Regions from separate parts of the Homo sapiens genome. Here all the other regions are linked to region 3. The links come from fine-mapping of genetic effects on plasma protein levels. A gene starts in region 3. Each other region holds a variant in brackets. All regions are shown on one strand. Distances are from middle to middle.

Region 1 (4,626 bases), 79 kb after region 3:
ACAGGGTCTCCGTCTGTTTCCCTGTCTGGAGTGTAGTGGCAAAATCGTGGCTCACTGTAGCCTCATCTCCCAGGCTCAAATCATCCTCCTGCCTCAGCCTCCCCAATAGCTGGGACTATAGGCACTTACCGCCGTGCCCAGCTAATTTTTGTATTTTCATAGAGACGAGGTTTTGCCATGTTGCCCAGGCGATCCACCTAACCTAAGGTGATCCACCCACCTTCCAGAGTGCTGGAATTACTGGCATGAGCCACCACATCTGGCCTATAATCACTTCTTTTTATCTAATTTCATCACATTCTCTTATTACATATCTTTTGTCAAACTCCTGGGCTCAAGGGATCTACCTGCTTCAGCCCCTCAAAGTGCTGGGATTACAGGCATGAGCCACCACACCTGACTATAGAATCTTTTCTTACCTGTTCTAAACTAGTGCTTAATTATCTTATATACATGTACTGTTTTTTGTCTTATAGGAGGAAGAGTTTTTGCCATTTTAAATTTCTGTTTATTTTTATTCTTTTTCCTTTACACTTGTCTTCAGTTCAATTCACCAATTCTCCTTAAGTTAGTTGCACAAAACAATATATGCCTCGAGCAAGGTGCCAAAGTATACACGTATATTCATTTTGTGTCTTTTTAATTCTAAGGTCGCAAGCCCAGATGAGACTGGTATTGCTTTTGTCATTTATGCAACATGATTTCCTTTGGCAATTCAGTTGTTTCAGAGTAAACTACATTTTTCATCAGTGCCTATTAGACTGTAAATGTATTATTTCAGCAAATGGTAAACCTCCTGTAACTGTGAATAAAAGAATCACAGTAGAAACCTCTAAGTTAGCAAAGAGGGTAGATACTAAAGGGTTTTAAAATGTATCTATTTTTTAGAAACTTGCTTAAGTATATAACTTCCATCAACCATATGGAATGCCCTTAATGTGTAAGGCATTTCACACAATACAAAGGTGAAAACGACATCCATAGATGTTATGAAACAGACGTTTCTAGGTGAGAGGCTCATAATCTGAAAAACAGAAAATATGTTTAAACAAGTTAAGTGTATTGTGAAAAGTGCTATAAGATACTTGTTTTTAAAATGTTGTGGGCTGGGAGTGGTGGCCAACTCCTATAATCCCCACGCTTGGGAAGCCAAGGTGGGAGGATCACTTGAGCCCTGAGTTCAAGACCAGCTGGGACAACATAGGGAGACCACCATATCTGCAAAAAAAAATAACAAATCAGCCAAGTGCAGTGGCACATGCCTATAGTTCCAGTTCCAGCTACTGAGGAGGCTGAGGCAGAAGGATTGCTTGGACCCAGGAGTTTGAGGCTATAGTGAGCCATGATCGCACCATTGCACTCTAGACTGCAGGACGGAGAGAGACCCTATCTTAAAAAAAAAAAACTGTGAAAGGGAAAACTAATTTAGTCAGAGAGGAGTTACAAAGAGGCTGCCTAGACTGGGTCATAAGGCCATCCAGGTATCCAAGGGCAAGCAGGAAAGAGGGAGAGGCGAGCATGTCCATAAACCCAGAAGTGAGAATGAGTGCACTTCCAGGTGGGAGTGATGAGGGCTAGTTGGAGAAGTGTCTGGAATTCTTCACTGGGGCGGGGGATACATAGGAAGTGTCATTACCCTCTATGCGTTTTAGAAAGAAAACATTGTTTCCTTGAGGCCTAAGCCTCATTCCTCTAATTACCATCCTAGATTTATTCTTCCTAGGTATTAAAAACATAAAACCTTCTCATCTTCCTCATTCTTACTCCTTCAGTGTGATTTTTAAAGAGGTTTGCCCAAAGAACGTGAGTTTTAAGTAGCAGTAATGATGATTCTTTCTTCATATGAATCAAGAGGCTTTACTCTTTTTCCCTCACTTGGAAAAAAAAGTGGGGGCTATTTTGTTTAAAGAATATAAGGATGAGACATCACGCCTTTGAACAAGCTTTATATTCCTTCCTTTCCACAAGGGCATCAGTCATTAT[G/A]AGGCTGCAGACATTTTCTTGAGATGTGTAGGTCAGCTATGTCTAAGGGGATTCGATTTAATGAGAGATTGAGAAATATTCTGCTATCTACCAAAGATATGCTGATTTTAACTGATTTACTGTTGTTGAAAAATTGAAGAAATGTTCAGAGATTTAGGTTGAAAAATCTGTTGTTTGTAAATTTTTCTTTATCAATAAGGTAAAATCAGAAGTCTAGCAATGTCATGCTTTTTACTCTGAGCTGTACAGAGAGGCCTTAGGCACAAGTGGATTTCTGGAACCAGTGGATTTCATAAATTTGAACTAAATTGTATCAGGCATGGAGCGCTGCCAAATTGTAATTCATTAGTTCACTGCCTGGCAGAGTTCCGTTTCCTATCAACAGTAAAACATACAGGTTTCTTCTGGGTGTATGGAATGTTCTCACTTCCAAAAGGCAGATTATGCTTTTATTTCATGTAAAATTTACAATTCTTGGAACAAATAGGACACAAAAAGTCTTGTAAGTTCTTCAGCTATAAGAAGATACAATTTGGAGGAATTTGTAAAATACTATTTCAGTTTATCTCATGTAACTTGGGATGAGAGTTTTATGAGATGAGAAAGTATCCTTAAGAGTCTTTTAGTTCATTCATATAGTCTTGTAACAAAAAAAAAATTATCTCTCTTTAGGCAAAATGATGATGCAAGGACCCTGAGTGCATTTGAGCTTTGGTGCCTTAAAAATGAGTGTGGCCTAGAATTGGGTGGAGATGTTGCCTGCAGCTATACAAGGGCTGATACTTCCTGAGTCCTTTATGAGGCCTCAAAAGCATAAAGTCCCTGAGCATAATGATAAGTTTCTCCTCTCAATTATTATGTGCCTCAGTTTTGATAGATTGAAAAGATGAATTTTTTTCTTCCTCTAAGTATAGAGCAAAAGCTTTGCCAGCTTGTAGAAGGGATATATTCCCCATCCTTAGTCACTGTGTGAAACCAGGTGCTTGAATCATACAGGATCTTCTAACTCTAACAGTGTTGGATTTGGGAATGATGCAGTACTCTTAGATCCCCTACCTAAGTCAAAACTATGCCTATTTTTTTTCAGGCAAACAATAAAAGAAGTAGGAGCTCTGAGTTTACCAGTAGAACCCAATTCTGCTTTTTGCATCTCAGACACAGACACCCACAACCAGAAACCCATGAAGAGATGTGCAAAGGCTGTAGGAAATAAGGTCATGTTCTTTCATTGCATTAAACGTTAATATCCCTAAAGAGGAACAAATTGGGGGATACAAACGTTAAGAAACAATTCCATCCCTACTTATCAGTTTGACTTTAGTAGCAGAGAAATCACAATAAATGGCCCTATTTCAAGATAGTACAGAGATAAAACACATGAATGTGATTTTTTTTTAAAAAAGGAGCTATTGGTACTCATCAAATGATGAGTTTTGAATAAAATGGCCAAAGAGACCCTCAAGAAGAGGATGAGCCTTCCACTGGACTTTGAAAAAGATGGAGAATTTTTCTGGATTAAAATAAGTGAGGGCAGAGGGAACAGTATTTTAAGTATAATTCATATATGGTGCATGTTGAATCTAGTCTTATGATTAAGACTAAACTAAGGTTTACTTAGGCAGTGGATGGTGGGAAGCAATTGGAAGGCCTTGGGCAGTGAGACTTACAAAGTTGGTTAAACAAGAAAGCTAATCTTGTTGTATATGTAGGTTGGATTAAAAGGGATTAAAGACTAACTGTGCTTGCCAATAGTAGTGCAGTGGAAAGATACAGTCTTCCTGGAGTTCTATTAGATTAGGGAACACCACTAACACCTGTGTTTACAAAGGGCGAGTACAAGTTACTTTATTTGCCAGTGGTTTTATTGGTAAATTTAAAACAAGTTTATGTTAGTTGCAAATGGTTTTCTAGTTATTTAGAAATTATTGTTCTCACTTCTGGATATAATTATTGGCACATGTTTTGGATGTATTGTGTTTAAGAATCACATGACTTAAAATACTTATTATTAGGGCAAAACCAACGGATTGAATGAGGGAACACCCTGGGGCCATTGAAATGAATATGAAAACTAATGATTATATTTCTGATTAACATTTGTTTAAGATGTCCTAGTTTTCCATCCTTTTTACCTACTAATGCAGTCAAAATGTGGCTTAATAAAATTAATACTCTCTATTAATACTGATTTTTTCTGACTTGTATGGAAACCAACACTTTGGGCTTTTTGTATTGATTAAAACTCAAATTATGGGCCAGGCACAGTGGCTCATGCCTGTAATCCCATCACTTCGGGAAGCTGAGGCAGGTAGATCACTTGAGGTCGGGAGTTCGAGGCCAGCCTGGCCAACATGGTGAAGCCCCATCTCTACTAAAAATATTTTAAAAATTAGCTGAACGTGGTGGCATATGCCTGTTATCCCAGCTACTTGGGAAGTTGAGGCAGGATAATCACTTGAACCTGGGAGGCAGATGTTGCACGGAGCACTGCACGTCAGCCTGAGTGACAGAGTGAGACTCCATATCAAAAAAATAAAAATAAAATAAATAAAACTCAAATTATGTTTTATTATTAAAATATAAACTGCAAATATTCTTGCCTACATATGACCTGAAAAGACTTTTATTTTTGAAATTTTGGCT
Region 2 (4,626 bases), 170 kb after region 3:
AATGATACAATTTTTGATACATGGGGTAAAATATATTATTAGAATTTATTTTGCCTATTTCTTGTCACTAGTAAATTATGTCTAGTTAGTATTAAAAATTATATATGTGGCATACATACTTCTTACTGAGTGATTCTAGTGTCGAACTTGCCAATTGTGTTCTTTGCTCATTAACACAGACACCTTCTCCCACAATTAAATTGAAGGAAAATATAGCATGTAGTAGGATGGCTAGAAATAGGAATGAAAAATTTCAGCTAAAATTCTTGGTTTAAAAGAGAAGAGGAAAAGCATCAAATAACCGCAGCAAGCCTGACAGCCCTAGGTTGTTTCCAGGCCCTAGTCATTTATCACTCTTAGAAGCAGAGTTCTACACTGTTAATAGGCAACAATGCTATTGAGGATATAGATCCGTGCATTTCATATGGATGTGTTGTGTCTGTTCTGAATATAATATTAAGGGAAAATTATAAGTGCATATGCATATAATCTGATTAGGGAAATATATGTCCTTGAACAAATTGCAACCAAATTGGACATACTGGAATTGGTTATACAGGAAAAATTATTAGATGTTTGCTAATGTGGAAAAGTAAGAAGTGACTTATTAAATTTCATGTTAACTATATCTGCTATTCCTGCAGTAAGAAAAACACTGATAAAATCCCTAGAATTTTAAACTAATATAATAAAAAAAATTCTGTATGAAAGGCCTCATTAAAAATTCTTAAGCATTTATTTTAGTCATATATTTAAAAAAATAGAAGGTTTCTCCATATCTGGCTTAAATTGAACCATGCATTCTCTACTCTCTTTGGGTATTAAAACTGACTAACCCAGGCCGGGTGCGGTGGCTCACTCCTATAATCCCAGCACTTTGGGAGGCTGAGGCGGGCAAATCACCTGAGGTCAGGAGTTTGAGACCAACTTGGCTAACGTGGTGAAACCCCGTCTCTACCAAAAATACAAAAATTAGCTGGGTGTGGTGGCAGGCGCCTGTAATCCCAGCTACTTGGGAGGCTGAGGCAGGAGAATTGCTTGAACCCGGGAGACAGAGGTTGCAGTGAGCCGAGATGGTGCCATTGCACTCCAGCCTGGGCAACAAGAGTGAAACTCTGTCTAAAAAAAAAAAAGCTGACCCAAATTATGGCCTGCTGTTTAATGACTGTTAAGCATTCCACTGAGTTGATAGGCTAAACATGCACAAATATATCGTTTCCATTTAAAAAATACTATGAGAAACAACCCTGAACTCTCACATCATCAAGCACACACATTATATCATTTTTGAAAACTAAATTTCTTAAGGTAGGGGTGTTTAGTGAAGGAAACACATATTGTAGCATGTGATTTTTAAAGCCATATTATCCAGAAAATTTGAGTCAGCTTTTACTTTTACTAGCACTGTAGGAGACTGACTCTTTTCGAATCATGATATCTTTTAATCTTAGTCTTTCAAAACATGTACTGATTTTTCTTTCCCACCGTGATTGCTAAATATTCTAATTAGCATGTGACTTTTAAGCATAGTCTTAACTTTCTTAGATATAAAATCAAAGTGCCACCAAAGGAGTGACAATAGCAAAATTCTTATTTTTCATTTCAAGTGAAAGACTACTGGCCCTGCAGTAAAACCTGCTCTGCCCCTACTAACCGTAAGGCTTTATAATTTTCCTGCCAATTATTTGATTCACAGCTTCTTCATTTCAAAACCAGTGGTGGTGGTAGACAATATTTTCCAGCAGAATTTTTGAAGCTCAAAATTAAAATTAACCCAAGTTGTACAAGTATCCTCTAAACTATACTATTATGGTGTATTTAATAGAATTTTTAGCCATTACAGGTTTCTAACATGTATCATTATAATATGATTCATCAGCTTCCAAGTTCAATTCTATCTCACTGGGTTTTACTGCAGTTGAAGTTTAATTGATATCTAAAACTAGAATGTAATTTTAGAGAATTGAAAAAAAGTTGGGAAAGAATAATTGCACCTTTAAGTAGAAGATAAGCAAGTATTTGTTTTCATGTATTCTATTAAAATTAGACTAATAAAATAACACTTTTCTTTGGCAAATGACCAAAGCTGAGCTCTTAGAGTGTGCTCTTTAAAAAAATGCTCAGCCATGGCAGAGAACACGCTCGTTTTTCTTTTCAGTTTGATTTGTCACCATTTAGTGGGCTTGCAATAAAAGAATGATGGAATGCATGATTAACATCATGTAAGCATGCTTCACTCTAGTTTTCTGACAAGATACCAAATCCTCTGAGTTTTATGTGAGAAGTAATCCTAAGATCCAATGTCACCATAATTCCCCCAAGACAGTTTAAATATTTGGCATTCTCTCTTAAATCAAATAATC[C/A]CTTAGGTTCATTCAGGTTCCATTTTTGGAGATATATGTATAAATATCTGTCTATCTGTCTACCTCTCTGCTATCTATCTATCTATCTATCTATCTATCTATCTATCTATCTATCTATTTCCACACAGGCAGATACACACACATACACAGATACAAAAATACATATACTTTACCCCTTTGAATGCCCTAAGGGATTGTTGAAATGTGTCATTTGCTTCTTTTCATAGTACTCTAATAAAATACATTAAAAATGTGTGCAATGTCAACAAATTCCATCTTTTGGGAATGTCCAGAACTGCAGAAGAAATATAAAGAGGAGAGACATTTATTGTGATTACTAGACTGGAGTCTCAGTAGGCTAGGATTATTGTAAGTAAAATTGATTTTGTCCATGATTTGATTTTAATCTAGTTTAGCAGAATCATATTCTACAAGGAACAGATATTTAATTTAGTACATTATGATGAAAAGACTTCAGTTCAGAGAAGTTTAATGCATTTGATATGATAAAAGCACTAACTGATTGTTAGGTTTTTAAAAATAGTTATTCCTTATTATTTTATACCATTTAAATAATTTCCTCTGTTTGTAATGTTTATATTAAATCTAGAAAATATTTTAGGCTCTTGCACTGGTACGCAGGCTGATTGTCTCTATAAAATGCAGCAATTTTGGAAGGAATAAATAGGATTTAAAATTCGCTGCACAGGTTGTTTTTTTCTGATCTAGAGAATTTTCTGAGAAACCACTTGCCATAGAATGAGTTGGAGCTGTCTAGTTACAAGCTACAGTTGTAAACAAGGGTCTATGGAAACCAATCTCCTGTAATTTTCCAGTCTACTGTTTTCTAATATCAGGGAGTTAGAACACTTGGCAATTTTGAAGATGCTGCTCAACAGAGGTCTCCAGCACTTTAACAGTTGGGACCAGATGGGACAATTTTCTGAGGTTAACAATGAGGCCAGGAGAACTATCCAAGCAAAGAAAAGAAGCAAAGAGGGGATTCATAGAGTGGAGTATCCTATTTCTTTTTTCTATTAAATAATTTATGCAAAATGTTCTTGCTCTCTCTACAATTTTCCTATAGGCTGGACTCTTGACACTATATAAATATCATATCAATTCCTCATAGTACCTATCACTCTGCAACCTATTTGTTGTACACTTTTGTGTTGTAAGAAATAGAAACAATATCTACTTTGAGCACATTTGTGTTATGGCTGCTCATTCCTTTTCTATAAATAAGCTATTAAAACCATGTCTTAGCTCTATGTCATTAATTTGCTCACAGACGTTTTGTTATATAAAGTATAAAATCAAACCCAAATGGCTCTATGCATGAAACAGGCATTTTGCTATTGTTTTTAAAGCAACGAATTAAAAAGCATGTGAGACCTCATTGGCAAATCGGCAGTATAGTATAGAGGAAAGGAGGGTGACCATTATCAGAATCAGAATGTGGTAGCATTTTTTTTTTTTGCCTTGGAAAGCTTTTTAAATTCTATGAGCCTCAGATTCATTTAGTAAGCTAAATGGAATTTTAATAATATCTACCTGCAAGAGTTATTGTAAGTATTAAAATTATGCAAAGTAGTTAAAGCACCTCCCCAAGCTTAGCATGTAGTTGGACCTTAATAAATGGCAGCTGCTGCTTCTGGTATTTATACTTCCTGGCTTTTTTTGTGGTAGATGGTCCCTTGTGAATGGTACACAATGAATTGTGGGCTGGTATGAGGTTTATCCCTGCTGGGCTGGAGCATGTAATTGCTTACGGGAGATTGTCCAGAACTCTCTACCTCACTATGCCATAGCAACCAGCAATGTTACGGGTAGTACTTGCTCCATCAGCTAAGACCACAAAGTGAGTACAATTAACAATAGAGCCACCCGCTGACCTGAGATGGACTTGTAGTATGAGTAAGAAATACACCTTGTTTGCTTTAAACCATTAAGAATCTGGGGCTATTTTCTGCAGCATAATCTAGACTATCCTGATTTGCATAACCTTTAAGTAAATATAGAGTACTAATACCATCATAATTTCACCTCTTAGGCTCTGCTTAGCACTTTTTAACAATAAAAGCTGATCTTGATTAGGAAGCTTTAATGCATGTTTTCTGGATTGCTTCTCTTCCCTCTTAAAAGAAAGAAAATGAATATATCCTATTTTTCTGAAACATATTAGAAAGGACCAAATCTACATCATCAATTTAATTAAACTAAAGCATGTTTTGCTAATTTCTCCACAATTGTCTTAGGACAC
Region 3 (4,626 bases):
AGACCTAACTTAAAAAATTAATATTGGAGAGGTAGATTATGAACAGCTCTCATTATGAAAATGATTTATATAGTGTTTTGGGAAGAAACCTTAAGTTGTGATAACACAGGGTTAGGAATATGACCCTTTATATTTAATTTTCCTCTAGGAATATTAATAAGATCTCTAATAATAGTTCTCATTTTAGAGTTTAGAAGTCGGATTATTATAGGGCAAACCAGCCTCAACTATTCTAGATTTAAGAGGTAAAACTGAGAACATTAAGGAATCTCAGTCGTTCAGATAATGCCAAATAAACACCTAAAGGATATAATGCCCTGAGTCCATAGCTCTATTTGTCTCTGAAACTCCATCTCCTTTGAAAAGAATCTAGACATATTTCATTCTGGGGCTTTGACCTGTGGTTTTCTTTAATTGAAGTCTCATAGTCATTAATTGAATCATGTGATGATTTTTTTTTTCTCTTCTCTAACCTTCATCTTGTGTTCAAACTAAGATTTCATTTATGAGCAGGAGGTAATAATGGGTTCTGCCAACACGTGAAGCTATCCTTAGCAAAGAGAAACAACTCCGTTTAATAATGATGTTAAATAATTATTGCTAAGCTATGTGTTGCGACTACAACATGACTTTGAAATGACTACGGTATGATTAGAATAAGAATATGATATAACTGTGGTGCTTATGAAATGAACTGGAAAGTGGCTGTGCTGCTATGTTTATTGTAAATGTATCACAATGATGGTTCATTTATTTAAAAACAGTGCAGTGCATAAAATAGGTGACAATTGGAACAATGTACTAGCTTTAATTGTAGATTTTGTGAATGGCAAAATGATCGTTTACTGTGGTAAGATAAAAGAATCATCCTTTCATTCACTGACATTATTCTGTGAGGCAATATTTTTCTTTTCACTTTGGGATACTTGTAAGTCCTTTCTATTCTTGAATTTTATATATTCTAATCATACAAAATATTACTATAATAAAAGTTGCTTTGCTATTTAAAAAATATCAGTCTATTATCTGCAAGGAAAGTATTTTATATTTTACATATAAGGGATTAATGGATTTTACAGTGGGCTTTTAGACACTGCAGTTGAACTGTGAATATTAACTCAGAAAAGTTTGAATTAAAAAGAGCTTACAATTTCATGTTGGAAAATTGTGATGTCAAATTAGTTGGTTAAATCATGTCATTATTTATTCAATATATGGCTTAGTAAGCTTGATTGGTGTTTTTTTTTTTTTTTACTTTTCATTTAAACGTCTAAAAACAAATGTTACTTAAAAAAGAAAAAAAGCAAACAAAACTATTGTACTCAAAAACAAGGGGTAATCTCCAACACGCCCTCAGTCAAGAGCTTAAGTATGTCAAGAGCCTTTAATGCCTAGGCAGCCCATTATAGAATGGGGAACACACAGGTTTAAAATAAATGCCCTTTATTCTTCCTGTAAGTTAGACCAAGTTATTCAATCATGTACTAAGACCTTCTCTGACAACCTTTATAGGTCATTCAGAAAATAAATTTTTGTTCCAAGTGAACTGTTCCTATGTTAATGCTTCAAACTTTACTCAGGTATCAGGCGTTAAGTACAAGCCATTACACAAACCTTTGTGGTTTACTGACTTTGAAAGATCAATCAAATATATTACTAGATAGTGCTTTGGGGGTCAGTATTTGAGAAATAAAGCTGTATTTTTTGGGGAGTCATTCCATCCAGTTCCCGTATGAAAACGAGAAACTTGTGAGGATTTAGTACAGAGCTGGAGTCGGAGAAATGAAATGCACGGGAAAAGACGAAAATCACAGGAAAGAAAGTTGGAATCAGCAGAAAGTGCCTAGGGGAAAGGAAGTGTTCCACAGCTTGGGAAACAGCTGCCTGGGACTCCTTCCAGCCCCTCGGAAGCAAAGTTCGCAGTGAGGTGGGCTGGAAGCGGGTTTTGCAGCAGCCGCGAGTCCGGGCTCAGGTTTCCAGGCGCGGCTGGAGCAGAAGTGCAGGGACCGCCACGATCCACCGCCGCGGCCGGTCCCGCTCCGCTAGAGGAGACTTCGCACGCGCAGCCGACTGGCCCGGGCTGACCGAGGGGACCCAGACGCTGCCACTTTCTCTTTCCAAGGCAGTTTCCGTGGCTCTGCATGTAGGAAGTGCTCCGATTAATTTTCTTTCCGGTCTCCGCAGAGATTCCAAATTCTGCGGTCCCCACCTTTCGCTGTACTCCCTCTCCGCCCTTCTTTCCAATGTCCCTGCCAGCAAAAGCCTCTATTTGCAGCACCGGGCATGTTGTCCGTTTAACGCGCTCCGGGGATCTGCTGGCTCGTGCTCCCAACCCAGGGGTGGCTATACGTCTCGCGCCTCTGTTCCTGGGTAGACTCCCCCATCTGTGCATTTTGGCCCCTTCACTTAGCAAAGAGATGTGCGAAGTGTGCGCCTGGAGACGAGCCGCCTCGGTGACCCCCATCCGCCCGCAGCGGTGGCCCTGGTTCCCCGGATCCGCGCCCGCGCCCTGCGGGTCTCCCGCGCCGCCCTTGCCCGCCGGACCACCCGGGCTCAGAGGGTCGCTCGCTTTCAGCGCCTGCGAGCGCCGCTTCCGCCCGGGCCTGGGGAGCGCCAGCGCGTCCCTCCCACGCCGGACCCTGCAGAGCATGCTCAGTGCACCTCATGGAACCCGGCTCTCCTGGGGCCAGGATCAGATTTCCGGGTTTTCGCTGCTGCCGAGGGGGCGCGGAGGAGGGGAGGCTGGGAGACAGTCAGCGCCTTGTTCCGCGCTCCCTCCCTCGCGCCGGGCTGCGGCCGCCCGCGCCGCAAGATGCAGGCCAATCAGAGCCCGGGGGCGGGGCCTGGGCAGTCACGCCCTCCCTCTGGGCTTATTGAGAGTTATATCAAGAAATTCAGTTCAGAGAGAGGAGAGGGAGAAGGAGAGAGGGGCAGAGGGGAAGGGAGAGAGGGAGAGCACGCGAGACGGAAAGGAGCGCCTCAGAGTCTCTGAAGCACGCAAGAGATAACCGATTAGGAATTTTTCGGGCAACTGTCACCCGGATAGCTGTCAGAGAATCATCATCACCGCAACTCTGACGTTTCCTACAAGAAGTTAGAGACTTAAGCAGTATTGGCATCGGATGGAAATGGTATGCATGCTGCTGTGGAAAATATCCCTGAGCTGAAGAAGTGCAACTATGTGTTGTGTGTGCTAAATGCCCAGAAGAACCCAGACCCAGTGGGTAAGAGAGACGAAATGTGGAGAGAATGACTAACGACAAATCCGTGAATTTGTTCTCTGGAGTTGCTAATTTGCCAGCCCGAAGCAACACATTTTACAAGGAGGAAACATTTTGCTGCTTCTGATTTCTCCCCAAACTGGTGCTACCAGATGCATGGCTTTCTATGTGTTGGAACAAATCATTCCTAACTGCAGCATACTGGGAAAGGGGAAAGGTTGAGGCAACTAACGTAAGTGTAAAGTTTCGCATGCACAATTGTAAATTCTGTGTTTAGATGTGTCCTCAGTGTAGGCGAAAGATGCTTGTAATTGGGTAGACGGTTGGGGCAGAGCTCACCTACTCGGCTGTATCTGCATCCCTACCTGCATCACTCTGCCGGAACTAATCGCGGGCATCAGCTACTGTGCAGCCTAATGCAGATAAGATTAGAGCCTGAGAACTGACCAGTCCTACTCAAGTAGGTAGCTGCCTGGAGCCTTGCACCCATTTAAACTGCAGTTATCTAAGCAGAAGCCTTTTTACCTGCATGATTGGGTTGCAGTATTTATGTGTGGCAAATGTTACTAATATTCTAACCAGAGATCAGGATTAAGAAATTGCATTTTTTTTCTCTTTTATGTTCAGTAGAAAATATTGTGATGTTACATGGGAATGTTAGCTGCGTTTCACTTATATCTCGGCACTCTCTTCCACCTCTAGGAAAATGAATCCTATATTATTATACATTTTTAAAAGTTTTAATGTGTTTATGAATCCTAATGAGGATAATTTGTCAATATGGAGAAAGGAGAGCAAGCTGTGGGCAAGAAATCTGAAGTCTTGTTGTTGTGCTTTTAGGCAATGAGGATGTGTAGAGGCCGGTGACTATTGCTTCTGATGCCGCTGCAGCGGCATGTCCGGATGCTCGTTTCCCAGTAAGATTGTATTAGAAGGCAGTTGAAGAACTGGGAGGAAAGAAAAAGATAGCCTTTTTAGAAAAGATAGGTGACTCAGTGGGGCAGAGAAGAAAACACATTTGACATGTGACAAAGCAATTAGCAGGAACCGTAGCTAAATACTTAGTGTTTTTCACTTGCACCTGAAAAGACTGAGGGAGGTAGGTTAGAGGCTAGGAGGAGGGTGAGACAGGGGGAGGGGAAGAGGAGAACAAGAATGCATGTTTTGAATTAAACAGTATTCTGAAAAACAACGTGCGTGAATATAGGTAAAAATAGCAGCTGTCCTTAATTCAAAAGTAGAAAATTTTATTTTCTCCCGGCAAATGCAACCAGCAGGAGATATTTAGTGTTTTTCTCCACAGAGTAAACTTGCAAACAGTGGCAGAGCAAACTGCCATGTTTACTAATGTTCAGGGGAAAATGTGTGGTGATATTTTGTGACGGTGTGTTTTTATTTACTGAAG
Region 4 (4,626 bases), 94 kb after region 3:
CTTCAGTTAATGTTTCAGATGGTTATGTTATTACTTGGGTGATTTGACAGAATTCACCATGGCTTATGCAAAATAAGACATGGCAGATGTCAGGGCAGAAGAAGGTGCACATGTGATAGGATTGACTAGAGTTTTGCCCTTGAGAATTGAACGGAGTGGCATTTCCTTCCTGATACAGGTATTATCTTACTGCTCTGGATCCTTACTATACAAGATTCATTTTCTCAATCACATAGACATACATACTGTTGATATTGTTTTACATTATTTTACCTTAAACCATAACTGTTCCACTTTGTTTCCTCGGATAATTTTGTGTGGCTTGATCAAAGTATTTACTTACTCTCATATGTATAGGCTATTTTCAATAATATATTAACATATTAGCAATAAGTTCAGTAGTTCTGTTAACAGTGGAGGGTATCCAGGTTCTTGGTGTCTTGAACAAAGAATTGGACAAAATGCACAAACAAAGCAAGGACAAAGGGATTTACTAAAAATGAAAATACCCTCCACAATGCGGGCGCAGGCCTGAGCATAGGAGCTCAAAAGGCCCCATTACAGAATTTTTGGGAGTTTAAATACCCCCTAGAGGATTCCATTGGTGACTCGGGGTACGCCCTATGTAAATGGAGAGGATGAAGTAAAGTCACAAAGTCGTTCACTTGGCCTATGCCCTCTGGAGCAGATATTTCCTGTCATAGCTGAAGTGTGAATGGGCCTTATGTTCCCTGCCTCCAGACCCTATTTTCCTTCCTGCTTCAGTTCAGATCAACAGGTGGCACAAACTGTAAATAAAGCATGAACAAACAAAACCCGTTATAATAATATTTTTAATATTTCCTGCAATTTACATAAGTCACATGAATAATGGGCACCCTGTATTGTGTGCTTATGGTGTGCTAGATAATATTCTAAACAGGCCAGATATTTCAGCCTGTTTGGTTCTCACAACACTTCAATGAAATGGGGATGTGTTCTTTTTGCCATTTTGTATAGGAGGACATTGAGGATCAATGAGACAGAGTACTTTGCTCAGAAAATTTCAAATAAATAGTAAAGATAGAATTCAAAACCACTTCATAATATATAGAAGTCGGTGAATTTTTTTTTAATTTAGCTAAAGTGGACTTCTTCCCAGTCTGCTAAAAATTCTTATAAATACCACTTTAGGTAAAAAATCTCTTTCTCTCTGTGTCATAGAACATGATTTATGCATGACTACTGAAAATAAGACTGGAATCAGATTGTTTATGGGCATTCCTTTCAGCTTCAAAAATTTTTAGAAATTTTTTACATAGAATTGAACATATTTCCTCTCCTTTTTTGGACATTTTTGAGATGTGCTTTTTTTGGTAAAAGCCAAGTAATCAATTATGGACAAAGCAAATCAAATAATCCCTGTGGCTGATGACATTTTTAGGCCAAGCAACTTTTTTAGTAGCTGAAAGAGACCACCAGAGAAGGAAGAATTTCCTTTTATTTCTGTATATAAATAGGACATTAGTAGCTTTAGCAGACTCTGTAACAATAGCACTACCTCTCACTATTGCAGACAGAGCTGAAAAAAATGTGGAGAGGTTAAATGTTCTAAAATGTATTATAAAATTACATGTCTCAGAAGCTGAAAGCCAATTTCCATTACAACACAGCTCTGCTGTGTGTAGAAGTTGAGTCATCTCTATTTTGGTAAGTGTTCTTTATCACCAAAGATAATTCATGCTATATTTTCATCTTTATGATGGAGGCACGAGGATCACCCCAAAGTTTTTACCTACGAAATTGCACTTGACAAAGCAGGCTGAGGAAATAGTGACAGATACTCTGGTACATTCCGTTGAGCTTACAGTTTGAGGTTTCATACAAACGATATGATTTAAATAGTTTACCACCCAGTTATCTTCCTTATATTACTACCTGAATATGACTTGGCTCACCCGTATCAAGCCCTGGCTCTTCACAGGAATGACAAAATATTTACCGAACAAAATGATTAGATTAGAAGTCCCAGCTTCTCACATTGCTACACAGCAACACTGCAGGATAAATAAATATAGATAATTTTCTTTTTTTTTATTATTATACTTTAAGTTCTAGGGTACATGTGCACAATGTGCAGGTTTGCTACATATGTATACATGTGCCATGTTTGTGTGCTGCACCCATTAACTCATCATTTACATAATGATTTATGAAAATTATCTACAAGAGATAAACCTAATGTAGATAATTTTCATAAATCATTTTATAGAAACTTTTATTCATAAACACGTTGTGTAAAATGCAGACACAGAGAAACTAGAGCCACAGATATTTTGATGTCTATTACTATTACTATTCTTATAAACTAACCTTTGTAAACTATCAAATTAATGTCCAAGTGATTGATTCAGACTGGAATTTGAGTCTCCATTTCATATATAACATAACTATTATTA[TTAA/A]CTAACATTTGTAAAATTTGGAAAATATAAAATTATTTACATTTGTAAAATATAAAATTAAAATCCAAGTGATTGATTCAGACAGCAATTTCAGTCTCCATTTCAAAGAGATTAGACCATAATATCTGCCTGAACTACACCATTTATATAGAGTTTAGCTAGCCTATATTTCCAGTGAGTACAATTTAATACAGCATATTGAATTCTCAAAGTATAAACTCTCCCAAATTTTCTTACTTTAGCATTATATGATGCAACAAACTCAAAGGACCACCTGCAGGTCTAGACTATAATGTCATGTGGAACACAGGCACACATGAAGAGAAACAGGCACTGCAGTGAAGGGTTGATTCTTCCCCACCTTATCACTTACACAGTCATGCGTCACTTGACAATAGGATAAGTTCTGAGAAATGTGTTGTTAGGCAATTTTGTCGCTGTGTTAACATCATAGAGTGCACTTACACAACCCTAGATGGCACAGCCTACTACACACCTAGGCTACGTGGTACAGCCTGTTGCTCCTAGGCTGCAAACTTCTACAGCATGTTACTGTACTGAATTCTATGGGCGATTATAACGCAATGGTAGGTACTTGTGTATCTAAACCCATCTAAACATAGAAAGGGTACAATAAAAATACAGTATTCTAATCTTATGAGACCATTGTCAGATAGCAACCACTGTCAGATATGCAGTTTATCCTTGACTGGAACATTGCTATGTAGCATATGGCTGTACTGAAAATTTTAAGAATATTCAGTATGGATGGGGAGGAAGTAGTAGTAGTTGAGGAGGCAGCATAGCAGAGATACCAGAGAGACCCTTTCTTGCTTTCTAGGAACAGGATATGTTATTGTAAATGAAGGTAGCAAAGAATCCCCCCAGTCAACACCACCAGGTCTCTAATTCTCCCACTGTTTAAGAAGGCATTATATGAGAGAAAAAATCTGAAAGAAAAACATGCCAGCACCTCTCTTCACTTTGCAAATGTACTACAATTTCTCCTAATTCTATTTTTCTGCAAGTGCTTTTTTGTTTTTAATTGACTCCTTGTAAATTGACTGCACGTATTTTCAAATTCTCCTTGTCCATTCTTGTTGACATCTTCTCCTCAGAACTCTGCTATTTATAAACCACTAATTGTTGGGATCTCATAAACACTGCCCACCAATGTTCTTACCGTGAAATTACCGTTTCTAGTAAAGTACTGGCATTTGGCTAGATGTTCTACTTCGTAATTTTAGAAAACCTTTTTTATGTGAATCAAAGTGAGGAATATTAAAAAGGAGAAAAAAGAAAAGAAATGCTTATTATAAAATGAGATCTATGGGGTAAAAATGAAGAGAGATGTAGAAAATATAAATTGGAAACACATAGCTAGAGTTTAGAATTCCTTTTCCAAGCTAGGCTTTGAGGCAAAATGTCCAGTTTGAACTGACTATGACATCTCCCCAGGACCTTCACCATCCCCTAAATGGCAGAATTATTAAACAGTAAAAAAATTAAAACTAGAAAATATTGTTAATAATATATTTTAACAATTCACAACATACATTTTGGTGTTTCTGAAAGTGTGCTGCATCTTGCCATCAACTGCATCTTAAAACTTAATTGACAAAACTTTTTAATGGTAGGAAATCATAGTAAGTTGTATAAATAATGGTATCATAAAATCAACAAAATGCATTATTATTAGGAATAGTAGATAATGTTAATCTTTCTTATACAGAAATAATTTGGATAATCCTAAGCATATTATACAAGGGACTGGAAAGTTTTCACTTTTCACTTTTCATTGGTACCCTTTAACTACATACAGCTCCTTTACAGTTTCTATGGTACAAAAATCAACCAACACAGCGTGACTTTATCTTTTTAAATAATCAGTTGTTTGAGACAGTTTTCAACATAAATTTTGATGGCGAGTCAAGGAGTTTAAACTGCCGTTTTACTCATGCCAGATGCCACTTTTACATTGTTTTAAAAGCTTCTGGAGTGTATTTATAGATGGCTTGTTTGCTCTCAAGCATGTTTCTGAGTGTGTGTTTGCTGCTGTTTGGCAGTATTTTCAAATGTACCGTAGCAAGAAGCCACCCCACAACTCAGCCTTATATTCCTGAAAACGAAAGTGCTTTTGTATTTAAAAAGAAAGAAAGAAAGGAAGAAAAACAAGCTTTTAAAT
Region 5 (4,626 bases), 48 kb after region 3:
TTCTTTTCTAATGGACTACAAACAATATATTTATTTTAATTGCCAGGCTCTCTAGTAGATCAAATATTAGTGCAACATTCACTCACTGCTCTCCAGGGCATTGCTAGGTATAGGAGTTACATGAATGGTAGACAAGCAATTCTCATCAAAGGTAGTATGTGACAAGTCTTGCCTATGTAGTACGGAGATTCTGTGAAAGAAGTTATCGCAGTCAACAGAAAGGACCAAAAAGGGATGTATTAAGATGAGGTTTGAAGGATGAATAATCTTTTGACAGGTCAGAAAAGGTCACTCCTCGTGAATAGAAAATAGTGAAAAACTGCACTATTTATAGAATTTTTGGTTTTATTTACTAAGATCCAATACATCAATACCCCTCACCCTGCCCTTAGGGTTTTATTTGTTTGTTGGTTGGTTTTTAGACAGGGTCTCACTTTTTCACCCAGGCTGGAATGCAGTGGTGCGATCTCAGCTCACTGCAGCCTCAGCCTCCTGGGTTCAAGCGATCCTCCTGCCTCAGCCCCCCAAGTAGCCGGGACAACAGTTGTGTGCCTCTAAGCTCCGCTAATTTTTGTTATTTTTTTATAGAGACGGGGTTTCACCGTATTGCTCTGGCTGGTCTTGAATTTCTGAGCTCAAGGAGACTGCCCGCCTTAGCCTCCCAGAGTTCTGTGATTACAAGCATGAGTCACCATGCCTGGGCCCTACCCTTAGTTTTTGAAACCTGTACCTCCATAAATTCACAGAGATCTGAATGCGGATCTAGTAAGATTATCACACAGTCAAAAGGCAAACATGATTCAGAATTAGCACAGAATTTTTGGCATGAAAAGGAACTTACCTCCTTTTCTTTCATTATAACCTTCACCTTCACAAGTTTTGTTGTTAAACAAGCTGTATGCCTTAATTTCCAGTGTTGTTCCCTGTGTCATTTGATAGAATGGTTTAGACACCAAGCATCTGAAGGAAGTTATAACCTACATTTTTACTAATCAGGTGGTTGTGAAGTAAAGACTAAGGAAAGAGACACTATTCTCTTTATTTTTTGCGCATGAAACATAGAAAATTTATACCGCAAACACTAGATGTTTTAAAAGACGCAAATGCAACATTCAGGATACTAGTTTTCTCATAAACATACTTTTAACAGAAGAATCAATGAATGATCATAGGACGATTTGCAAATATGTCTGAAAATTTACTGCAAATCTGCATCTTAATATGCCTAGTGTTCCATTATTGGAATGCCACGTAACTCACCAAAGGGACATAATATTTTTTTTCTTTTTAAATTCTTGTTCCTTGAATTTTTCTAGGTAACACATGTAAATTTCATGCAAAAATTCAAAACATTGCAACCTCAGTCGTAAACAGGTTAAATCTTATTTTCTAATCATTGAAAGTGTTTTTCCAAATTTTCTTAAATTATTATTTTAAAATATAACAGTGATCTTTCATTATAAAAGTAAAAAATATCAACATTGCTTAAACACCATTGGTCCTTTACCTTAAACAACATTCATCATATCTTATTTGGTTTTTTGGTTTTGATTTTTTAAAAAATAAAATGTATAATATACAAAAGTGTTGTAATTAAACTGATTGTCTTTATTCACACTTTTCTGAGTACTCTGCTTTAACCATATCTCAAAGACCCAAGAGAAACATAATAAAAATAGCAGCTGAGATATTTGGAGTTACAGATAAATTTGGAGTCATAGTTTGAAGTTATAGATTCAAAAGAAAAGACAGGAAGCAGACTTGTGAATGCAGGAACTTGAAAGGGAGCCAATTCATAGCAGACTTTTTCAAAAATATATTTACCTACACTACCCCAAATTCCACTTCACATGCTTAGTTTTGTGTTTTTTTTCTTAATAGTTAGGAGTCCATGGTTGGACGTGGTAGAAATAGATTTGATTCCTGACAGT[T/C]GCTTACTTTCTAGTTTGGGGGCAAAACTTTAGGCTCTCTGATCCTTAGTTTTTGCAGTGTTTGGTAGTGAAGTTCAGAAGTACTTAAAGTGCCAGGCATAAAATAGTAGTAATTATTATGATTATTTTATTATCATTGATAATGTCTATAGTAGTAGTAACAGTCATAGAAATCCTTACAATCTATAGATTAATTAATTACAATTATTCCTTCCAACACCTAGCTAAGAAAATTGCACTAAGGTAATAGGGCCATTCTTGTTCATTTTCCTTTTTCAGGAGATTGAAAAGATAGTAATTTTAGAATTTAGATCCTTCCTACATTGATCCTTCCAACATTCCATGGAAATTAGGAATAGTAGTGAAGAATTTATGGCATAATGAGAACACCTGGGGACAGGCAGAGTGGCATGTAAAGGAAGAGGGTACCCCAGAATAAATTTTATCCATCTCCTAATTTTTCCAGGAAGAATTAGTAAACGCTATTCTACTTCTTTCACCCAATGGCTTCTTAAGTCTGGGTGGTAACAATTTACTGTCAGTGTAAATTTTTCAACAGAGATCAGTTGATTTAATCAGTAAAGATTTATATTGCATCCTAAGTGGGAAGAAAAGTGACTTACAGTTTTCAGCAGAGGGATACCTTAATCTGACCTATGATTTTCATTTTTTTTTATTTTTAGAGAACATTTCGATTACTATGTGTAGAACTGACTTTAGTGAGGAAAGAGTGAAATAATAATACATATAATGATAGTTTGGACTAAGATATAGCGAAAAAAGGTGGTAAAGAATGGTGAGATTTTGGATATGTACTGCATATGTGTTACAGCCCATATGGCCTGTAGACAGATTAGATGTTGGGGTGTGAAGGAAAGAGAAGATTTGTGTCTAACCTCTCAACTCCATGTTTTTTCACTTTAATGACAGGGGAAATTGGGAAATTTAGGTCTGGAACATATTCAGGTGAAAAACTGAGAGTCCTGTTTTAGGCAGGATGATTAAAATGTCTACTAGGCATCTAAATAGAAATATTATGGAGGTAGTTTAACTTATGAGTCCTGAGAAGGAGGATATAGCAGGATATACATATTTGAGACCCATCACTGTGTTGTTTAAATGCCCTGAAACTTGAAACTGATGTTGGTAACAAGTGAAAGAAGAGATCCAGGGGCAGAGCCTTGAGCCATGCCCACATTCAGAGGCAGGAGGAGAGGAACCACCACAGGACACAAAGGACTGGTCAATCAGGTGAAGGCCAGACTGGGGACTGTAGTGTCCTAGAAATTAAGTGAAGAAAATGTTCCTGAAAAGAAGGTGATTTGCTGTTTAAATGTTGCTGAGGAGGCACGAGGGTGTTAGAAGACAGAGAATAAACCATTGGAAGATAGGTATTGCTTGTATCTTGAGAAGAATGGTTGTAGAAACAACTTATTTTGTAGTGGTGTTTTTTTTTATGGCCTAATTTTTAGTCACTTTTGTGTCCATTTGGTAATTTTTAAATAAACAGCTCTATTACACTGTCCCTCCTTCTTTCCAAGATTCACTTACTTTGCTTTGATTTCATATCCACTTATAGAGCTGGCATCCACTGAAATTCTTTCCCTGTTTAGGATATGTGCACAGAACTTTGTATCACCTCCATTACACTGTACCTACAAAGCATTATTATGTCATACCATATTAGCAAGTTAGAAAATAATTTAACCTTCCCTGCTTTCTAGTTGTCTTGATATTCATTTCACAAACATATTTTGAAAACGGTCTGTGTGATTTTTCTACCCATTCCTCTCTCCTCTCTCTCCTGAACCTCCTGTGATATGAATTTCCTCTACGGCTTATGAAATCGCTCTGCTTAATGACACCAATGATTTCCTAAAAACTAAGACCGATAGCTTCTTATGATTATTCTCCCTATGCAGCTGCTTTAAGTAGAAAGTTGAAAAAAAATTATTTGCACTATATGCAAGTTTGATTTACCATGACTTAAATTTCAATAATAAATCCCCAGGAACTCCTCTTTTGACTTAAGCTTTTCATAGACACTAGTTTGAAAACCACTGATCTAGAAAACCAGCATTATGTTAATGCCTTTTATAGAGGACCGCACCTAAGGTAAAGGCCAAGCTGATTGTCTCTGGGTTCCGACACATCTCCCACTGTTAAATTTCACATTAATTTGAAATTGATTTTTAGTAATTAAAATCACAGTTATATTAGCCTCTTGACACAGATTTAAAATGAAGAGCTTTAACTTTATAAACGATAATGCTTATTGCAGTTGATGGTGCTAAAAGGTAACAATACAACTCTGTAAATACATTTGGATTGCTATCCCTGAACATGAGCCAGCATCATAATCTGCTTATCAGTGAGAAATGTTCAGGGAGTGTGAAATTCAACAAGACAAGCCAAAGAAAATTAATTCAGACTTGCCTCAGAAATGCCAATTGACCTAATCTTCCCAATCTATTAATTCTGAAGGTAGAAGGAGCAATAGATAGAAAAGCCTAGAGGGTAATCACAATGACACAAGACTTAGGAGCAGCTCACAAAGTTGGCTCCGCTCGTGAAGACCAACCAGGGAATTTTGAATAGTTATTTTAAATGGACATAGGCCATGCAGAGTCTTACAGGTCAAAAGCAAAATCCAAAAATCAATAACAAAAAGTGAATTAGGGAACTTGAAGATATA
Region 6 (4,626 bases), 470 kb after region 3:
TTAAGTAGTCTTAGCTGGGAACCCATAGTTCCAGCTACTTGGAAGGCTGAAGCTGGAGAATTGCTTGAAACAAGGAGTTCAGGGTTGCAGTGCACTATTGTTGAACCTTCCAATAGCTATTGCATTCCAGCCTAGGCAACATAAGACCTCATCTCAAAAAAAAATAGTCTTATTATTTTGAAAAATGATTTACCATACGCTTGCTTTGAATCTTTCTGAATTTAAATATGAACTGATTCATTGTGTATATAAATTAAATTTTTTTTCTCTGAGACTTGTATCTTAATGAATTTGGATATTCACATAATATCAGCTGACTCAATAACCTGGTATAGTCTATGTTTCATAATATCAAATAAATACATTTCAATATATACAACCTAGAAATGATCTGTTTAGGATTGAGTCGAGTTAGATGGTAGAATAGGAACTTCCAGTGATTGCCATTCTCCCAACCAAAACATCAATTTGAACAACTATACATGCACAAAACTACCTGACAAGAGGTAAGGAAACCAGCTGGGAGATTACAGTGCCTCGTTGTTGCATAATGACAGGAAAAAATAAACTGAAAAGGGCAAGAATGACAGTGTTACATTACCTGTTTAATTCCTCCACCAACCCAGGAAGTGCAATGCAAAGAAATATATCATAAGCTTGAGGAAAGATGGGAAGTGAGCACAGGATTTTGCCTTGGTCCTTAACACTGGGCCCACCACAGTAAAACCTAGCACCAGGCAGACACCTATGGACTCTGAATTCAGGCTGGTGTCCATTAATTTAGCCTCCTGGCCTGTCTCAGTGCTAGGAGGGAATGCATAGTCCCTGCAAAATCTTTGGCCTGCATCATCACCAGCCAAGTGCAGTCACCATAGGTTCTGTACAAACCTCAGCAACTGGCAGGCTTTAGCAGCCATGGGCTGAAGATATACCCTGGCAATGTGAAAGCCTCAGCAGCCATGGAATTCCAGCATCGCACTGCACCAACCATGGTGGTTCTGAGGGAAGGGCATTACCTACCACTGAAAAGTCTACAGGAGTCATAGGCTTAGGGACCACACCAAACAACCTGCCCAGAATCTCTGGACAAGCTTACTGTTGAAAGGCATTTTCAGACAAATCCATACTGCAAATACTGGAAAAAATGTTTTTTCAATGTGTAGGGCATCAACACATGAACAAAAGGATCATTAATAATTAGGGGAAAATGACACTACCAAATGGACAAAATAAAGTATCAGTAACTGATCCTAAAGAGATGAAGATGTATATACTGCCTGATAATAAATTCAAAATAATGATTTTTTTTAAGGAAGCTCACCAATATTCAAGAACTACAAAGAAACAATAAACAAAATGAGAAAAACAATGTTATCCGAACTAGAAATTTAACAGAGCTATTTATTTATATAAAAATCAAACAGAAATCTTAGAGATGAAAAATAAAATAATTGGAATGAAAACTGCAAATACAATACTTGGAATGAAAACTGCAATACATATTATCAGCAGAATTGATAAAGTAGAAGAAAGAATTTTAAACTCAAAGACAAGTTATTTAAACTCATAGAGTCAGGGGAGAAAAAATAATGAAAAGAAATGAAGAAAGCTGACAGAATTAATGGGACAGCATCAGAAGAAAAAAATTTCAAGTGATTGGCATTCAAGAGTGGGCGGAGGAAGATAAAGGGGGTAGAAATCTTATTTTTTAAAAAAGAATAGATGTATCCAAACCCAGAGAAATATAAATATCCAGGTACAGGAATGTCCAACTATTGGGGGAGCCAGCCCCCAATATTTCAACATAGTTTCTTGTCTATTTTCCCTAAGTGCCAGCCAGTCTGAGAAGTAAAGAGAAAGAGTACAAAAGAGAGAAATTTTACAGCTGGGTTTCCGGGGGTGACATCACATGTCAGCAGGTTCCGTGATGCCCACCTAAGCCGCAAACCAGCAAGTTTTTATTAGCGATATTCAAAGGGGAGGGAGTGTACGAATAGGGTGTGGGTCGCAGAGATCACATGCTTCCAAGGCAATAAAATATCACAAGGGCAGAGAGGCAGATTGAGATTGCAAGGCCAGGGCAAAACTGGAATTACTGATGAAGGTCCATGTCCTGCTGGGCACACGTTGTCATTGATAAACATCTTAACAGGAAACAGGGTTCAGGAGCAGACAACCAGTCTGACTAGAATTTCACCAGCCTGGAATTTTCCAATCCTAGCAAGCCTGGGGGTGCTGAAGGAGACCAGGGCATATTTCATCCCTTATCTACAACTGCATAAGATAGACACTCCCAGAGCAGCCATTTTCGAGACCTCCCCCTGGGAATGCATTCTTTTCCCAGGGCTGTTCCTTGCTGAGAAAAATAATTC[A/C]GTGATATTTCTCCTATTCGCTTTTGCAAGAAGAGAAATATGACTCTGTTCTGCCTGGCACCGCAGGCAGTCAGGCTTTATGGTTATCTCCTTTGTTGCCTGAAAATCGCTGATATCCTGTTCTTTTAGGATGCCTAGATTTCATATTGTTCAAACACACATGTTTTACAAACAATTTGTACAGATAACAATCATCACAGGGTCCTGAGGTGACATACATCCTCAGCTTACGAAGATGACGGGATTAAGAGATTAAAGTAAAGACAGGCATAGGAAATTATAAAAGTATTAATTTGGGGAACTCATAAATGTCCATGAAATCTTCACAGTTTATGTTCTTCTGCCATAGCTTCAGCCGGTCCCTCTGTTTGGGGTCCCTGACTTCCCTCAACATCCAAAGACATCAAGTAGATTAAATGCAAATGAAGCTACCTCAAGACATATTATAATCAAAAACTTTCAAAGATAAAAGACAAATATAGGGTCCTGAAGGCAGCAAGAGAAAGAAGCAAATAACATAAAAGGGAGTTTTAATATGTCCAGCAGAGGACTTCTCTACAGAAACATTACAGGGCAGAAGAGAATGGGATGATATATGCAGACTGCTGAAGGGGGAAAAAAAATGACCGGCAACCAAAAATACTATATCCTGCAAAGCTATCTTTCTGAAATGAAGGAGAGATAAATAATTTCACAGAAAAACAAAAGCTTAGGAAGTTCATCACCACCACATCTGTAAGAATTGCTAAAGGGAGTTACTTAATCTGAGAGAAAATTAAATGAATGAATTTCACAAAAACATCTGAGCACAGAACAACTTACTGCTAAAATGAACTACACAGTCAAATTTAGAATATTCTAATACTATAATGGTGATATGTAAATCTCTAATATCTTTAGTATGAAGATTTAAAGATAAAAATATTCAAAATTTTAATAACCACAATAATTTGTTAAAGGGCATGCAATTTAAATATATGTAAAGTATAACATCAAAAATTCAAAATGAAGTGGAAGGACTCAAGTAAAATTATAAAATGTTTTTATAAGCTATAAAATGTTTTTATAAGCCTCATGGTAACTGTGAAGCAAAACTCTAGAATACATACACAAAAAGTAAAAAACAAGAAAGCACTGTTACTAGAGGTATACAAAGAAACAAACTAAATGAGGAAGAAAGAAACAAGAGAGGAAGAAAGAAAAAAGATCTCTAAAATAACTAGAAAACAATTAACAAAATGGCAATAGTAAGTCCTTATTTACCAATCATTAGATTTAATGTAAATAGATTAAATTATTTAATCAAAACAAAGAGTGGCTGAATGTATAAACAAAACAGGATTTAACCATATGCTGCCAAAAAGAGACTCACAGCACCTGTGAGGGTACACACACTGAAAGTCAAGGGATGGAAAAAGATATTCCAAGCAAATGGCAACCAAAAGAGATTTGGAGTACCTTTACTTAATTAAATAAATTAGGCTTTAAGTAAAAAAAACTGTAAAATGAAACAAAGGTCATTATGTAATTATAAAGGGTCCAATTCAGCAAGAAGATATAACAATTGTAAATATATACGTACCCAACTTCAGAGCAGCTACATATGTAAAGTAAATATTGATAGCAGTAAAGATCAGAGAAAAAGATAAAATAGAGATTAAAAAATAGAAAAGATTAATGAAACAAAGAGTTGGCTTTTTGAGGAGGTCAACTAAATTGACAAATCTTTAACTACACTAAGAAAAAAAAGATGATTCATATACATAAAATCAGAGAAGAAAAGGGAGATATTATAATTAATGCCACAGAAATACACAAAGTTTTGTAAGAGATTATTATGAACAATTACCTGCCAACAAATTGGATAAGCAAAAAGAAATGGATAAATTCTTGAAGACATATAACCTACAAAGATTGAGTTATGAAGAAATAGAAAATCTAAATAGATCAGTAAGGAGTAAGGGGGACTGAATCAGTAGTAAAAAGTCTTCCATCAGAGAAAAGCTCAGAATTTGACGGCATCACTGTTGAATTCTATCAAACATTTAAAGAATAATTAATACCAATTATTCTCAAACGCTTTCATATATAGAAGAGAAAAAAATATTTGCAAATTTATTTTTTTAATACCAGCGTTACTCTAATATTAAAACCAGACAAAAACACAACCAAAAAAGAAGACCACTTGTTAAAATTACAGATAGATAGAAGGAATAAATTATCATGTTCTATTGAATAGGAATGTTCTATTCAT
Region 7 (4,626 bases), 340 kb before region 3:
AGTGCTCTGTGTCAGGATCCCTAAGACTGTCTCCAAATTCAGTGATTCACAAGGAGGACTCACAGGACTCAGCATACAGTTGTAACCATGGCTATGATTTCTTACAACAAAAAGATAAAAAGCACCACCAGCAAATAGAAAAGGAGCAAGGTATAAATTCTGGAAAAAACCAGGCACACATTTCCAAGAGTCTTCTCCCCATGCAGTTACAACAGGATGCCCTTAAATTCCTCAGCGATGAGTTTTGACAACGCTTGTGAAATGTTGTCAACCTGGGAAGCTCATTAGAGACTCGGTGTTCAGAGATTCTTTCCTGGAACCTGATCATACTGGCACATCATGCCTGGCATATAACCCAATTCCAGATGCCTAGAAGTAAAGAAGTTGTTTAGCATAAACCACATTGTTTCCATAAACAGTGCAGGCATGATGAGGCACTCGTCAGTTAATGGTGGAAACTTCCTGAAATTCAAGTTCCTAGATGTAAGCCAAGTATTAATATAATACTTTAGGCCTGCCATATTGACTCTTTCTGTACAAGGTTAAAAGTATTATCTGAAGCAGAACTGCTGTCCAAAGTGGTCACCCTGGTTATAAATAGACTTGTTTGAGCTCAGAAAGTGCTTTCTCACCACAGACACTAACCAACGTAGAAACTCATCTAGAAATGTGATTAGATAAATAAGAATCATCACATCTTTGAGGAAAAAAAGAAAATACAAATGTAACATTAGAAGAACTAGCTCCTGAGGAAATGCAATGAACAGAAAAGAATATTAAAATCAAACGTTTTTACTATTTTAAAAGTAAATCTTTTAAATATTTAATGTATTTTGCATATTTTATTACTGAATACATGCTAGTAATGCCTAGAGAAATATTAGATTTTTATGAAAAATAAAAAATAGGAGAAAAGCGTCTGTCATTCAATAATATGATTAGGAACCAGGATAGCAGCCTTACTAGACAGACTATGGATGAACTACCAAATAGACGCAATACTGATGATTATTCTTTTCTAAGTCTGAATAGTATTCCATTCAATGCATAGTAAAATGAGCATTGTCTTTTTTCAATTTCCCAGTATTCTTCTTTAACACATCAACTACTGACCTTGGAGAGGAACTTCATAAATTAATCTCATATTGAATTTTATTTTATTCATTTAGTTTTAAAATTGTCTATCTTTAATTCTTGTGGGTACATAGTAGGTGTATATATTTATGGGGAACAAAAGATGTTTTGATAATCCCATATTTCACTCTAACCCATTAACAAGACTAATCTAAATCCAAGAACCCAAAAGAACATGATACAGAGGAGTAAAAGATAAAAAAATCATTGGTTACGCGCTAGGGATAGTGGAGAAAAGAAGAAGCAAACGTGACTAGATTTAAGGAGAATCCTCCTTATCCCCCTATGGGTTTCTAAAGGAAATACCAAGGGCAAATGGGCTACCATGCAATTCTCTGATTAGCTATTAGTCAGCTGTGCCTCCTGCCCACACATCCACCCTTACTTACCCTCAATAACCAGGACCATGAATTCACAGTTGGATGGTCAGGCAAGGAGGGATCCTAAATTTTAGCTTTGATGACTAGTTGTGTGTGTGTGTGTGTGTGTGTGTGTGTGTGTGTGTGATGTAGACAGCATTCAGAATTAGTTGAGAGGCTGACTGGAGAGTTTTCCAAATGTTTTCAAATAGTTGAGGTGGCTCGCCAAGGAAACATGTAGAATGCACTGATAGCCCACTGACATACCCCAAAACACTGAATTTAGAAAGCTATTTCGGGATGGGATTTTGGGCCTGATCAAACTAAAAGCAACCAAAAACAAGTATATGAGTGAAATCATTTTTTTCTCAGTAAATATATGAAAAATACATGAAACTAACTAGACGTTGTAAGCATTAAAATGTACATATTGATGGTAAGAAATGTTTATATAAATATTTCAGTAATAAAGAAAGAACACTCTTATGAAGCCTTCATGTAATTTATAACTTTTTTCTACTAATTAAGACAAAAAGAAATTTTGCATATGGAAAATAAATTCTATACACACAAAAAATACAATAGGTCTTTTCCTCTCACAACAAAGCATTATAACTAAAAATTGGTATTAAAGAATAGACCTTCTATTGTCCACTTTCCAACTCTACCTTGAAAATTTCTTAAAATCCATGGGAAAAAAAGATATCAGAATTGAAATTGCTAAGGCTCCCACAAAATTCCAACAAAACACCACGCTAC[A/T]CTCCAAGAAAAAAAATGTATCTAGCATCAAATTAAATTCTCATTAAAAATGAGAACTAATATGAAATATAAAAATATGGAAAAACACAAGTAAATTTACATAAAGGAAGTAAAATAAGGGATAAAATATAATAAATCAATAATATAGAAAAGTTTAAAGGCAGAGCTTTTAAATTATTAAATAAAAACCTGGTTCTTTTAAAATGTCAGGGTAGAAGATATTTGGTGATTCAAAGCAAGAAAAAATAGAAAAAGTAAAGTAAGTTGCTTTAGGAATTGGGAGGTAGAAAAATTTTGGATATGAAAAGTCTTATTATAATATTATATATCAATATGTGCAGTGATCAGGAAACTGGCCAAATTTGAAACTTAATTTGTGAGTTTTTCTCTGTTTTGAAAACCTTCCAACTCAGAGGGCAGTCATGCTCATGACACACCTGATAGTTAATTGCAGACTCCTCACTTTTTCTAGTATTTCTAGTCTGGGATGATGGACACAAGGGCAAAATTTTAATACAGGGTAATCAGATGTTTTTCTTAGGAAACTGATTCTTGAGCTGAGCGGTATATAGAAGATGTTTTGCACTGAGTTGCATTAGAACAGATCCTAAAAAAAAAAATCTCTAGGAGCTCCTGTGGCTAAGGTCTTGGGGTTTTTGTTTTTGTTTTTCTGTTTTTTCACTGCTTTTAAGTTCTCAGTAACTCCAATAACATTCCAATAAAACATTTTTTTCTTTTTTACTCAAGTAAACTGGGATAAGTTGTTAGCAAACAAAGGAATCTGTCGTCAAAGATCTGAAAAACATGAGAAATATCAGACTGCAGGGTTAGATTGCTGCTTCTGATATTTCTAAACAACTCAAAATAATAGGGTGACTATTTTCACTCTCAAAAGTTTTACCTCATGTAAAGAATAAAATGTCGACTTTCATATGCTCCTCTTGCAGGGATTGCTCTTGTAGTCATGGGGCTGAGACTGGCAAAAGTCATTTTAGAACATGAAACTGCAACAAATTACATCCCTAGCTAAAATTCACAAATGCTTTATTTTTCTCTGATGCATGCTAGAATGTTGTTTTGGAAAAACTGGAAAATTGAACGATGATATGTCAGAGAGTGTGTATCATCAGAAACTTACTGTCCCTCCTCCCATTTTTAATCCTAACTCCTGAAATTATCACTCTAGCTTCTCCTATACTGGAAGGCATAAACAATTTTCTCCGTTCTTCAATCTTTTTTTTCCACTAAATTTTAACTAGAATTATAATTCAATATGGTCCTTGGAGTGAAAAAAAGGTCACATTTTAAAAGGATTTATAAAACTTCCCTAATTTACATGTTAAAAATGAGAAATTTTGCCGGCACAATATTGACAGTTCTCGATTAAAGAAGATTAATTTTGGAGGGCTTATTTCATTGCTATAGATGTGCATGCTTATACATGTGTACATATTTATGCACACACATGCAAAATGATTCTGTATTTAATAGCATATTTGGAAAGTCAGCTATAGTTATTTCCATTGGCTGAATTAGATAATGTAAATCTTAACCAAAGTCTGGCTCATGCTACGTGATATTAGAAAATTATACATAATTTAATGTAATATAGAATAATGACTAGCAAATCTTCAGATTAGAATATTTGATTTCTTTTTTTATGTGTTATCTTTACACTGAGTCCAATCTTTGTTCTCTTCCAGACTCTGAAAATTTCTCTCTCTCTCTCTCTCTCTCACACACACACACAATTTGCATATGGCATATATTGATAAAGGGAGCAAAAGAATCTTTGAAACTTTGCTTTGATGTTCTTGAAATGATGGTGGAAGAGTCCATGATCCAATGAAGATTTCTGATATCAATTGTGATTGGAGGAACCTTACTGAGATGAGTTCAGTTTTCTCAAAAATGAAGTTGGTGTGATCATCGCGATATGACAGTCTTCAGTCTATCTGCAGCATTGAAGGGTCAGGGAATGGTGAATGGTATGACATGTAGAGCTTCCTGAAACTCAATGAATTTCCAAGGATTAAGTTGAAAGGAAGCTAAACTACTTGATTAGTAAAATCAAAACAATACAGGACTGGCAAATAGTCCTGTTTCAACTTGATTCACAACCATAAAAAAATCACATAATTGTCAATATTTATCAGCCTCAGAGTCTACCTACTGTCTACCTTGATAGACAGATTTATTTTCAGGAATTTTTTATAAAATGATATGCGTCTACTAACATTTCTCACATTTCCCACAGATAAATGTGTGGGAAATTAAAAAAAATCAAGATTTTGAGAAAACTGGCTTGATTCCGAGCTAATTATAATTACTAGGAACTCATAATATTATTGTGAATGCCAATTAGAGTAGAGCA

Alleles and levels. Positions count from the first base shown, and alleles are read on the strand shown. Strength reflects both the effect of a copy and how common the allele is.
As copies of G replace A in region 1, the plasma level of the protein whose gene starts at base 2,897 in region 3 goes down (weak association).
In carriers of allele C in region 2, the plasma level of the protein whose gene starts at base 2,897 in region 3 tends to be lower than with A alone (weak association).
As copies of A replace TTAA in region 4, the plasma level of the protein whose gene starts at base 2,897 in region 3 goes up (moderate association).
For the plasma level of the protein whose gene starts at base 2,897 in region 3, C is the high allele of the variant in region 5 and T is the other (weak association).
For the plasma level of the protein whose gene starts at base 2,897 in region 3, allele C in region 6 goes with a higher level than allele A (moderate association).
For the plasma level of the protein whose gene starts at base 2,897 in region 3, T is the high allele of the variant in region 7 and A is the other (moderate association).

The links. PIP is the chance, under the fine-mapping model, that this variant and not a neighbour inherited with it causes the effect. The UK Biobank Pharma Proteomics Project read protein levels with antibody pairs (Olink). The fine-mapping took linkage between variants from a reference panel, not from the people measured, so its PIPs are less certain.
Region 1: its variant is fine-mapped to the plasma level of the PCDH9 protein (UK Biobank, PIP above 0.99).
Region 2: its variant is fine-mapped to the plasma level of the PCDH9 protein (UK Biobank, PIP above 0.99).
Region 4: its variant is fine-mapped to the plasma level of the PCDH9 protein (UK Biobank, PIP above 0.99).
Region 5: its variant is fine-mapped to the plasma level of the PCDH9 protein (UK Biobank, PIP above 0.99).
Region 6: its variant is fine-mapped to the plasma level of the PCDH9 protein (UK Biobank, PIP above 0.99).
Region 7: its variant is fine-mapped to the plasma level of the PCDH9 protein (UK Biobank, PIP above 0.99).

The regions. Positions count from the first base shown.
Region 1 is chr13:67,149,947-67,154,572 of GRCh38, reverse strand. All of the region lies in intron 2 of PCDH9 (protocadherin 9), which reads left to right. Among named protein-coding and RNA genes, the nearest start is that of PCDH9, 78 kb to the left of the region's middle. The variant G/A (reference allele first, on the strand shown) is at 1,984.
Region 2 is chr13:67,062,747-67,067,372 of GRCh38, reverse strand. All of the region lies in intron 2 of PCDH9 (protocadherin 9), which reads left to right. Among named protein-coding and RNA genes, the nearest start is that of PCDH9-AS4, 74 kb to the right of the region's middle. The variant C/A (reference allele first, on the strand shown) is at 2,364.
Region 3 is chr13:67,228,607-67,233,232 of GRCh38, reverse strand. PCDH9 (protocadherin 9) reads left to right here and starts at 2,897. Exons shown (of 5, transcript NM_203487.3): 1 at 2,897-3,453. RefSeq lists a silencer at 2,487-2,626.
Region 4 is chr13:67,134,575-67,139,200 of GRCh38, reverse strand. The region is part of intron 2 of PCDH9 (protocadherin 9); the gene reads left to right. Among named protein-coding and RNA genes, the nearest start is that of PCDH9, 93 kb to the left of the region's middle. The variant TTAA/A (reference allele first, on the strand shown) is at 2,439.
Region 5 is chr13:67,180,524-67,185,149 of GRCh38, reverse strand. The region is part of intron 2 of PCDH9 (protocadherin 9); the gene reads left to right. Among named protein-coding and RNA genes, the nearest start is that of PCDH9, 47 kb to the left of the region's middle. The variant T/C (reference allele first, on the strand shown) is at 1,932.
Region 6 is chr13:66,758,505-66,763,130 of GRCh38, reverse strand. The region is part of intron 3 of PCDH9 (protocadherin 9); the gene reads left to right. Among named protein-coding and RNA genes, the nearest start is that of PCDH9-AS2, 64 kb to the left of the region's middle. The variant A/C (reference allele first, on the strand shown) is at 2,373.
Region 7 is chr13:67,570,480-67,575,105 of GRCh38, reverse strand. No RefSeq gene overlaps it. Among named protein-coding and RNA genes, the nearest start is that of LINC00364, 200 kb to the right of the region's middle. The variant A/T (reference allele first, on the strand shown) is at 2,253.